Linked DNA regions of Homo sapiens. The protein of the gene in region 3 purifies or fractionates together with the protein of the main gene of each other region. This does not show direct contact. Each region holds a gene or a part of one and is shown on either strand. Other genes may lie near its edges.

Region 1 (2,363 bases), on a different chromosome or scaffold from region 3:
CAGGCGTGAGCCACTGTGCCCAGCCAGGTCATTTTTTTTTAAACAGAAAATTTAAAGTATAATAGAAGAGGCTGGGTGCAGTGGCTCACACCTGTAATCCCAGCACTTTGGGAGGCTGAGGCGGGAGGATCACGAGGTCAGGAGAGCGAGACCATCCTGGCTAACACGGTGAAACCCTGTCTCTACTAAAAATATAAAAAGAAAAATTAGCCGGGCGTGGTGGCATGCACCTGTAGTCCCAGGTACTCAGGAGGCTGAAGCACGAGAATCGCTTGAACCCAGGAGGCAGAGGTTGCAGTAAGCCAAGACTGCACCACTGCTCTCCAGCCTGGGTGACAGAGTGAGACTCCGTCTCAAAAAAAGAAAAAAAAAATTTTTTTTTTTGAATAGGGAATACTTTCGTGTGTTTCAGACTAAAAAATTGATTTTATATGTATTTATAATTACACACATATACGTATGCAGTAAAGTTTCATTTTTACTTGTCCTTCAGCCACCATTTCCTTTCCTCTTACACACTAATATTTTCAGTTTCTTATTTATCCTTCCAGTTATTTTATGGACATACCAGTAAATACACACATATATTAATATATCCAGTATTTTCCCCATCTCTTTTTTGCACAACCCCTTAAATATACTTAAAATAAAACAGAACAACAAATTTTTCGTAAACAAAATTTAATACAACCATATAGTCAAGTAATAATGGTTAAAAGACATTTTATTAGATACAACTTTTAAAAAATTAAACTATGCAAGAAGTATATTTAAACAAAACATGTAAGTAAGTATTCACGTGCTACAACTTAACTAAGAACAATTAAATACAAAGCATTCTTTCCACTATGAAGACTCTGGAGCCTCTAATTGAAAGCAAATGACCTTAGGTCTATACTAGTTGTAAAGCAGATTATACTTTTGTTCAACTCTAAATTTGTATTGTCTTAGAGCTCCAACAACTCTCAATAAAAATTTAAATAAAGAAACCTTGGGGGAGGGGTGATAGGGAAGGGGAGAGTAAGTGCTTTTTCAAAAAGGTAAATGAAAAAGCCTGAAGAGGGAAAAAATTGTACATAAGTATGGAACAAAAATAAGTATACTTTTTTGACATTCGATGTAGATACTGCAAATGAATTTACACGGGTTTAATCAATGTAAGATAGATATTTGTCTGAATATTTTAAAAAGCACCTAGGTATCAAAAAATAAAAACAAAAAATATAATGAAACTCCAAACATCCAACAATCTCCCTTAACATTCTCATTCTGCCAAGCAACCACACGTTGGTGCTTATTACACAATTTAAGAAGGGGAAGTTTATTTACTCTATAGGAAACAAATATGAACCTTATCTAAGGTAAGCTTCATTTAGATTGAAAAAAAAGTTGAAATAGCACTAGAGAACTTAAGGCACATAAACAAATTCAGGTGCAGTTATTTTGAAACCATTAAAACAAATTCTTTTCTTTGGAACAATATATAAAATAAGTTATGAATGTTGCTGTTTTTATCAGCACTAGGAAAATTTAATATCTAAGGCAATCACACAAATGTAAAATGTTCATATAAAACATTAAAAAATGTCTAAAGTGTCTCTGGAATTATTCATTCACACTCCTGGCTCAAATGGTTTCTGGTGCCTAGCATTAGATGTGACAATAATGATAGCTAGCTAGTCAAACCTACTGCCTTAAAGATCAACCAATTTGCTCCATTCTGGTTACTTGGCATGGTAAATTTATTTAACTAAAAAGAATAATGGGGTGAGGTGATGTAAACCTGGCTTTCAATAAGATGCACAACAAATTCTAATAAGGCCAAAACTCTGTTGAGGTTAACTGGTGTCTTGAGTTTACTAAAATAAAGGCAGTCCATAGGAAGCCTCAAAGAGACATTATCTTACCACTTGGCACCACAAAAACACCAAGCTCTCCTCTCTGAAAATACAGGCCGGGGGTGGTGGCTCACGCCTGTAATCCCAGCACTTTGGGAGGCCGAGGTGGGCGGATCACGTGGTCAGGAGTGATCCGTCTCTACTAAACCCCGTCTCTACTAAAAATACAAAAAAATTAGCCGGGTGTGGTGGCACGCACCTGTGGTCTCAGCTACTCGGGAGGCTGAGGCAGAATCCCTTGAACCCGGGAGGTGGAGGTTGCAGTCAGCTGAGATCGCGCCACTGCACTCCAGCCTGGGCGACAGAGCAAGACCCCGTTCTCCCCCCTTCCCCAAAAAAAAAAAAAAACGAAAAAAATACAGTTTGAAGTAGATGTCGTCTTTTCCACATATAAATCTCAAGACATAAAAGGCACACACAATTCAACTCCTCTCTTTTCATATATGGGTTCTCACAGCAATTTAA
Region 2 (3,664 bases), on a different chromosome or scaffold from region 3:
TGTTTTGTTTAAACTAGAGGCCAGTTCTGTAGTCTGGGGATTATTCATTCTCAGAGCTAGATAACCTCTTGTTGTAGGTTGGATTGCTGGGCAATTGACTGCCCACCTGTTCTGGATAAACAGAAAAAAACAAACTCCATGATGAAGTCGGGGTCCTAAAATCTGCAAAAGAAACAGCTGTTTGCTTCTTTGTGGTGGCCTTTCTGATGGGCCTGTGTCCTTCCCCTACCACCCCTCAGGCTACACACTAGCTTCTTATGGACAGATTCTATCATCCTTTAGGAGATATCACCTTAGTCATGCTCGCGATATGGTATTGCCTTATTTAAAAGCTAAAGGCCATGCAGTCCATTCCTACTCCCTTGAAGCACGGCAATGAGATTTACCCACACCCACCCACCCACTCCCAGCATACTAATATTCCATCTCTGTAGAGACTCCCAGCTAAGGGAGTCTTCAAAGTTATCATCTGCTTATCATTTTTCCATTCTTACTCTCAAGAAATGTCCGTTGCTTCCACGGAGTTGCCTCTTGTGCAACTGAAAGGTCCCAGCCTCTCTATCATTCTCGTCTCCACAACCCTCTGAACATAGTGTGTACTGCATTAACAAGATGATGGCTTACGTTCATAATAATAATCTGGAAGCATCAAGAATAATTTACATTATGTTAGCATTCTAAGCTTCACTAAGGTAACGGATTATATGTTTTACAGAGCGTTTCATCCAAAACAACTTTGATGTTTTGGTACTTACAGCGTTTCGCCTACACTACTGAGAAAATTCACTCACACTAACAGCTCATCCATTTACCTACCAAATAATAGTAGTGCCTAGTACATAAAAGGCTGGATGTTTTGTTGAATATGCACAAAGCATATGGAGACCAAACAGTGTAGCCTAGCGTAAATACTACCAACCATTTTTCCATATATATACAATCACATATAATCAAATCATATGTATGATCAAAATATATGTGTGATTTGACCAAACAATATAGCCTAAATACTACCAACCATTTCTCTATATTTATACAATCACATATAATCAAATCATATGTATGATCAAAATATATGTGTGATTTGACCAAACAATATAGCCTAAATACTACCAACCATTTCTCTATATTTATACAATCACATATAATCAAATCATATGTATGATCAAAATATATGTGTGATTTGGGGAATCATGGTTTTAAAAAATGATACCACTGTAATATGCATTTCCTTCACCTTTTCTCATTGACAATAATTTGTGAAAAATGTTCCAGTTCAGTAGATACAGATGAATCATTCATTTAATAGCTTCATAATATCCCATGTTATGCATATACCATACTTTATTCAACTTTCCCCTTGAGAGGCATTATTTGAGATTTTTCTTCTTTTAAAAAAATATGTTTGTATCTGTTTGTTCATTTGCTTTCTGAGAAAGTAAGTATGTTTGGAAAATGTGGGTTTCAATCCCTGCCCCCACCATTTATTAGTCATGTGAGGTTGAGCAAGTCCTCTCTGAATCTGTTTGCTAATCCGTAAAAAAATCTCCAGTAATAAAACCATCTCTTCCTCAGAAGTTTATGGAAGATCAAAGTGTGGAAGCAAATATAAAAATACATATTATAATGACCATTTTAATTAGTTCATATTCGTTTTATGTTTCTAATTGCAGAAATTGTTCATAGGTACAGAAAAGATAAAACAGTAAAATTAATACTTTTTTCCTCTTTCTATTAAAGAATGGAATGACTCCTCTAATGCATGCAGCATATAAAGGAAAACTCGATATGTGCAAATTACTACTGCGACATGGAGCCGATGTAAATTGTCATCAGCATGAACATGGATACACAGCCCTCATGTTTGCTGCACTTTCTGGTGAAGTTTTAGTATTTATAAATATAAGTTACCTATACAAACTTGTTATAAGTACATATATACTAAAAGATTAAATTCATTTTGATTTTAGTAATTTTATGGTCAAGTTTTATGGAAAGGAATGATGGCAATTGGTTTTTGAAAAGCTATAATGCAGGAAATAAATTATATAGTGAATTTGGTGATTTGTTTCTTTTGTTATTTAGATCAATTGATTCTTTATGTGGACAACATTTTGATGGAATTGAGGAACTGGATCTGTTTTTCTTTCAAGTTACCTCCTTTGATGTTCTATATCTTTATATTTTCAAGTGACATGAAAACTTCTTTCTTCTCTTGATCAAACAGTTGCCATGACAGAGCCGTCTGTTTGCCTCACTGGCACTTATGTACTAAATATGATGATCCCTTTAGAAACTTACTCGGATTTGTATTGTTTATTATTTGCTGAATAAGGACAATTTAGAAATACTGTCTACAATTAAGTGGGATTATCTGTAATTGGTGCAGCTCTTTGAAAAATACAGAAGTAATATCCTTGTACTTTGAAGATAATAATCTATATTTTCATAATCCTGGAACCCAGAAGCACTTCTAAGCATTATATAAACCACAGAATCCAAAAAGGACAATATTGATAAAAATTTAACATTTTCATTTGTAGGATATACCATAAATAGAGTTAAAATACAAATGAAAAACTAAAAATCTGTATTATATGTCTTAAAAGATTATATTGTGAAATATTAAAAGTTCTTTTAGCTGGGCACAGTGGCTCACACCTGTAATCCCAGCACTTTGGGAGGCCAAGGCGGGCTGATTGCTTGAGCCCAGGAGTTCGGACCATCCTAGGCAACACCATGAGACCCCGTCTCTACCAAAATAACAAATATTAGCCAGGGACAGTGGCGCACGTCTGTGGTGCCAGCTACTCAGGAGGCTGTGGCAGGAGGATTTTTGAGCCTGGGAGGCAGAGGTTGCAGTGAGCTGAGATCGTGCCCCTGAACTTGAGCCTGGGTGACACAGTGAGACTCTGTCTCAAAAAAAAAAAAAAAAAAAAGACTTCTTATAAATCAAGTATAAAAAGAAAAATACTACAGTAGAAAATTGGATGGAAAACAAAAGAAATACCACTGGCTGATCAAAATATAAAACATTTTGCGCAGTAATCAAAAAAATGCAAATTAGAACAATAAATTTTATTTTTTAGCTTATTATACTGGCAAATGTTAAGAAAGAGCTATAATGCTCAGGAACTTCTTTACACTATTTGGGGGAGTGCATGTCAGTCCAACCTTGCTGGATGGCAGCCTGGCAAAATGCATTTAAAATATGCATAATCTTTGATCTGGCAATATTTCCCAGGAACTGTTCCTAAGGAAATCATAATTCAAACTTGCGAAAATGAATGGAAAATACTTTTCACTGAGTATAGTTCATAATAGCAAAATACCCATAATGACTACTTTAGTAGAAGAATGTGAATAGAATAATGTGTATGTTTAGATAGAAAAAAGGTGTAGAAAGATAGATGCCCAGTGGTTAATAGTTCTTCCAGAGCCTGTAAGTGTGAGGAATGGGATGGATTAGTCGATATTAAAGGGGAATCCTATTCATTTTATCTCTTTTTAAAAAATTGTTTTGTATGCGTATTTTGATTTTATAGTAAGTGTTACCTCTAGGAAAATATATTTCATTTTGTTTAAAAAGGCAGTATTCAATTCCATACTGCCTTTGCATTGCTTGATTTGTTTTCCAGAAAATAAGGTTAATTTCTAAGGTTCT
Region 3 (3,664 bases):
GCATCTAAAGTAAATGTGCCCCGTGGTAATGGAGGGGAGGAGGTGCACAGAGGGCACATTCTGATTTTATGTCTGGAATGAATGGGAGCTATAAAGTGAACAATCATTAAGCAGGATTTTAGGGCCATATTTCATCTGTGCTGCCTTGGCTAAGACACCTAAACCTTTCTATAGTCGAGTTTGCCCATCTATAAACTCAGAGAGCCAGGCAGGCAGCAGCAATGGCAACCCCTGCTCCTCAACCCCCGCCACCACCTTAGTAAAAAGATCACTGGCTTCAAGGTCAGGGAGCCCAGACTCTAACTGGGGTTCAGGCTTTTTGCTAAGTGTGTGTGCATGATCTGGGGCAAGCAATTTAACCTCTCTGAGTTCTAGATCCCTATGTGCACAGCGAGCTAGTAGACATTCTAAAAATACATAGTGCCCAGATAACTGCCCAATTTAAAAAAGAGAAACCAAACATAAGAAAAGAGGCTTGGTTTTTGCGTTAAGAGAACAAGAGGCATGCTCTGAGGCCACAGTAGCAAACAGACAGGGGACAGGCGGTGCTCCTGCTCAAAGGCTGACTTAGCGTTGAGGTCTCCTAAATCATTCTTCCTCGGTCTTCTCTGAAACACGGAGATAACCATACTACATCCAATGGGACAATGGTTAAAAGTGACAGGGGCTCACCTCACAGGCACAAAGTACTATGGAAGTTCCCAGCATGACCACCACCACATAGCCCACTCAAACAGCAATGACAGAAATGCATCTTACATGTGTTCCAGTTCCTTCTGCGTATCCTCCAGGGAAATACCCAGCAACACACATATGCCCCTTCCAATGGCACTAATCTGCTCTCCTCCAACTAGAAAGGAACCAAAAGGGAGAGAAGAACTCAGAACCAAACAAGGTCATAAAGCACTTTTAAGTAACCATAGGAGTATTTTAAACATCATACATACTTCTTATAACTTCTTTGGTTAAAGTCAGTACGTATTCGAAAATGAAAAGAGTTACATAAATGCAGTGAGATGATAATAATTCCCATCCATTCTGATTTTATCTCTGGAATGAATGGGAGCTGTAAAGTGAACAACCATTAAGCAGGATCTTAGGGCCATATTTCATCTATGTTACCTTGGGTAAGACACCCAAAATTTTCTATGGTCAAGTTTGCCCATCTATAAAAACAGAACTGTGTTTTCCTCCCCCAGAGAAGCCAGCTCAGCTATATTAATTCTCAGAAAAGAGATTCCTGCCTTTTGCAGAATATCAAAAAATATGGTAACACAGTATACAGGAAGCACAAAGTGGAAAATGTTCATATCATAAATGATTTTCCTACTTACTATGAGGACAAATACATAATACATAAAAATCACAATTTATGTATTAAGCTTCAACTCACCAAACTGCTATTATTTCCCAGTTTAGTTTTGTGGTTACATTCTAAGCCAATGATCTCCAAATATTTTTCAATCATGCATCTTGTCCATTTGAAAAAAAAAAGGCTCTAAGCACACACTCCTAACATTTGTATATGTATTTATAACCAAATGTATGCCCTACTACCACTAGACGATACCTCAAATGGTAGCAAGATGCATCATTATGGGCCGGGCATGGTGGTTTATGCCTGTAATCCCAGCACTTTGGGAGGCTGAGGCAGGCAGTCATATGACGTCAGGAGTTCGAGACCAGCTTGGCCAACATGGCGAAATCCCATCTCTAATAAAAATACAAAAATTAGCCGGGCATGGTGGCGGGCGCCTGTAATCCCAGCTACTCAGGAGGCTGAGGCAGGAGAATCGCTTGAACCCAGAAGGTGGAGATTGCAGTGATCCAAGATCACACCATTGCACTCCAGCCTTCCAGCCTGGGTGACAAGAGTGACTCTCCATCTCAAAAAAAAAAAAAAAAGATGCATCTTTATGATGGAGAATCCCTGTTTTTTTTTTCATTTGTTTTTCTTTTTAAGAGGCAGGATCTCTCTATGTTGTCCAAGCTGGAGTGCAGTGACTATTCACAGGTGCAATTCCACTACTAATCAGCACAGGAGTTCTGACCTGCTCTATGTCCAACCTAGGTTGGTCCATCCCTCCTGATGGTCCTCTGGTCCTGGGAACTCACCATATTGATGCAGAACTTTGGTATGACAGCAGGTCAGCATAGTGTACTATAGCCCAGAACCCCTGGGCTCAAGCAATCCTCCCTGCCTCAGCTTCCAGAGTAGCTGGGACTATGGATGCACGCCATCATACCCAGCTAAATCTGTATTTCAAGTGGTGCTTTTGAAAATTTTCTATTTTTTGCCAATTATTTGCCAATCTTATTAGATTATGTTATTTTACTACTTCATCTTGTACTGACCTAATGTGCTAATCGGAATAGAAGGGTCACCTCAGCCATTTTCTTGCTGTTTGCTTGCTTCTGCAGGGTAATAGCTATAAATATAACTAACACAGTAACATAGACTATGTCATGTTACAATACACTGCTAAAGAAAGGGTGAGAAACTTCCCTCTTTCTTCAGTTGCAATGGCAAGAGACCACCTGCTATTCAGATCCCAGCAGAGCACATCAATCCATTCCTGAAATATCAGTAATGCTTAATTTCTTTATTTTTAGGCTAAAATTTTTTAAATCTTTTCTTCTGTGCTGCTTTTCTTATAATGAACTATGTGTGTGTGACTTATTGTCCTTTGAGCCACTGCCTCAAAAGCTGAAATAGAAATAATCTATCCTGACATAGGCAGTAAACAATTGGGGGTTGGTTTGCTCATTTGCATTGCTTCAGAAAAAGCCTTTGGCTTTATTTGTTCTTTGAATAAATCAACATTACTTTCTTACAATATTGATATACTTTCTAAATTTTTCCCAAAGTATGTTTTAAAAAATAAAGGTCATGAAGTTATATCTATCATCAAAGTAAGGATTATATATTTTAGAAAATATGAGAAACATGAAAAAAAGAACAAAGGTAAGTACTTTAATATTTTAATGATTTCCTTTTAATATTGTATCTATTCATACATTTTAATTCATATTTGTTTTCAACTACTATAATAACATTGCATATAAATTTTTATAATAATATTGCATAAGAATTTTTTCATGTCATAACCTTTTCCTAAACACCTTTTAATAGATTCAGCTCATCAAGTAGACTGATTAACCATTCCATCTTGCTGGACATATGGCTTCTTTCAAAATTTTCACCTCAGTAAATAACAGTGTAGTGAAAATCTTCGTACACTAAAGCCTTTTCTACAGTTAGGATTATCTGCTTAGATTCTAGAATCACTGTCAAAGAATTTTGACAGTTTTATAATTATCTTAACATGAAACAAATTATGGCCCAAAGTCTATATATGACACAGAGACTGCTGTCTTATTTTGGAGCAGTTTTGTCCCCCCTCCAGGGACAAGTAGAAGGACTAGGAGATTCAAAAGGATTTTTTATTATAAGTAAATGGATCACCAAGGGAAAAAATCTGAGAATCACCACTTTGAACAAAAGATCAAAGGGCTGGAAAAGACTGAGATGTTTGGTCAATTTTTCTACCTACTAGTGGCATCAGACCTGAGATCTCTACTTCAAGAATTCATAACCTTTGAAGTTAACCTAGTTAAACCCAAACATTTTAGATCCTCTTCCAACACTGTTCACAGACATCAA

Evidence for each region.
Region 1: the proteins of DTD1 (region 3) and KLHL24 purify together in Homo sapiens (affinity purification with mass spectrometry; one large-scale study listed by BioGRID and IntAct). This does not show direct contact.
Region 2: the proteins of DTD1 (region 3) and ANKMY2 fractionate together in Homo sapiens (co-fractionation; one large-scale study listed by BioGRID). This does not show direct contact.

Annotation. Positions count from the first base shown.
Region 1 is NC_000003.12:183,682,821-183,685,183, reverse strand, and holds the end of KLHL24 (kelch-like protein 24), read right to left. Parts: 3' UTR 665-2,363; downstream 1-664. UniProt on the Homo sapiens protein: Necessary to maintain the balance between intermediate filament stability and degradation, a process that is essential for skin integrity.
Region 2 is NC_000007.14:16,625,255-16,628,918, reverse strand, and holds part of ANKMY2 (ankyrin repeat and MYND domain-containing protein 2), read left to right. Parts: intron 1-553; exon of another isoform or gene 554-639; intron 640-1,740; coding exon 1,741-1,879; intron 1,880-3,664. UniProt on the Homo sapiens protein: May be involved in the trafficking of signaling proteins to the cilia.
Region 3 is NC_000020.11:18,590,917-18,594,580, reverse strand, and holds part of DTD1 (D-aminoacyl-tRNA deacylase 1), read right to left. Parts: intron 851-3,664; coding exon 760-850; intron 1-759. UniProt on the Homo sapiens protein: Possible ATPase involved in DNA replication, may facilitate loading of CDC45 onto pre-replication complexes. An aminoacyl-tRNA editing enzyme that deacylates mischarged D-aminoacyl-tRNAs.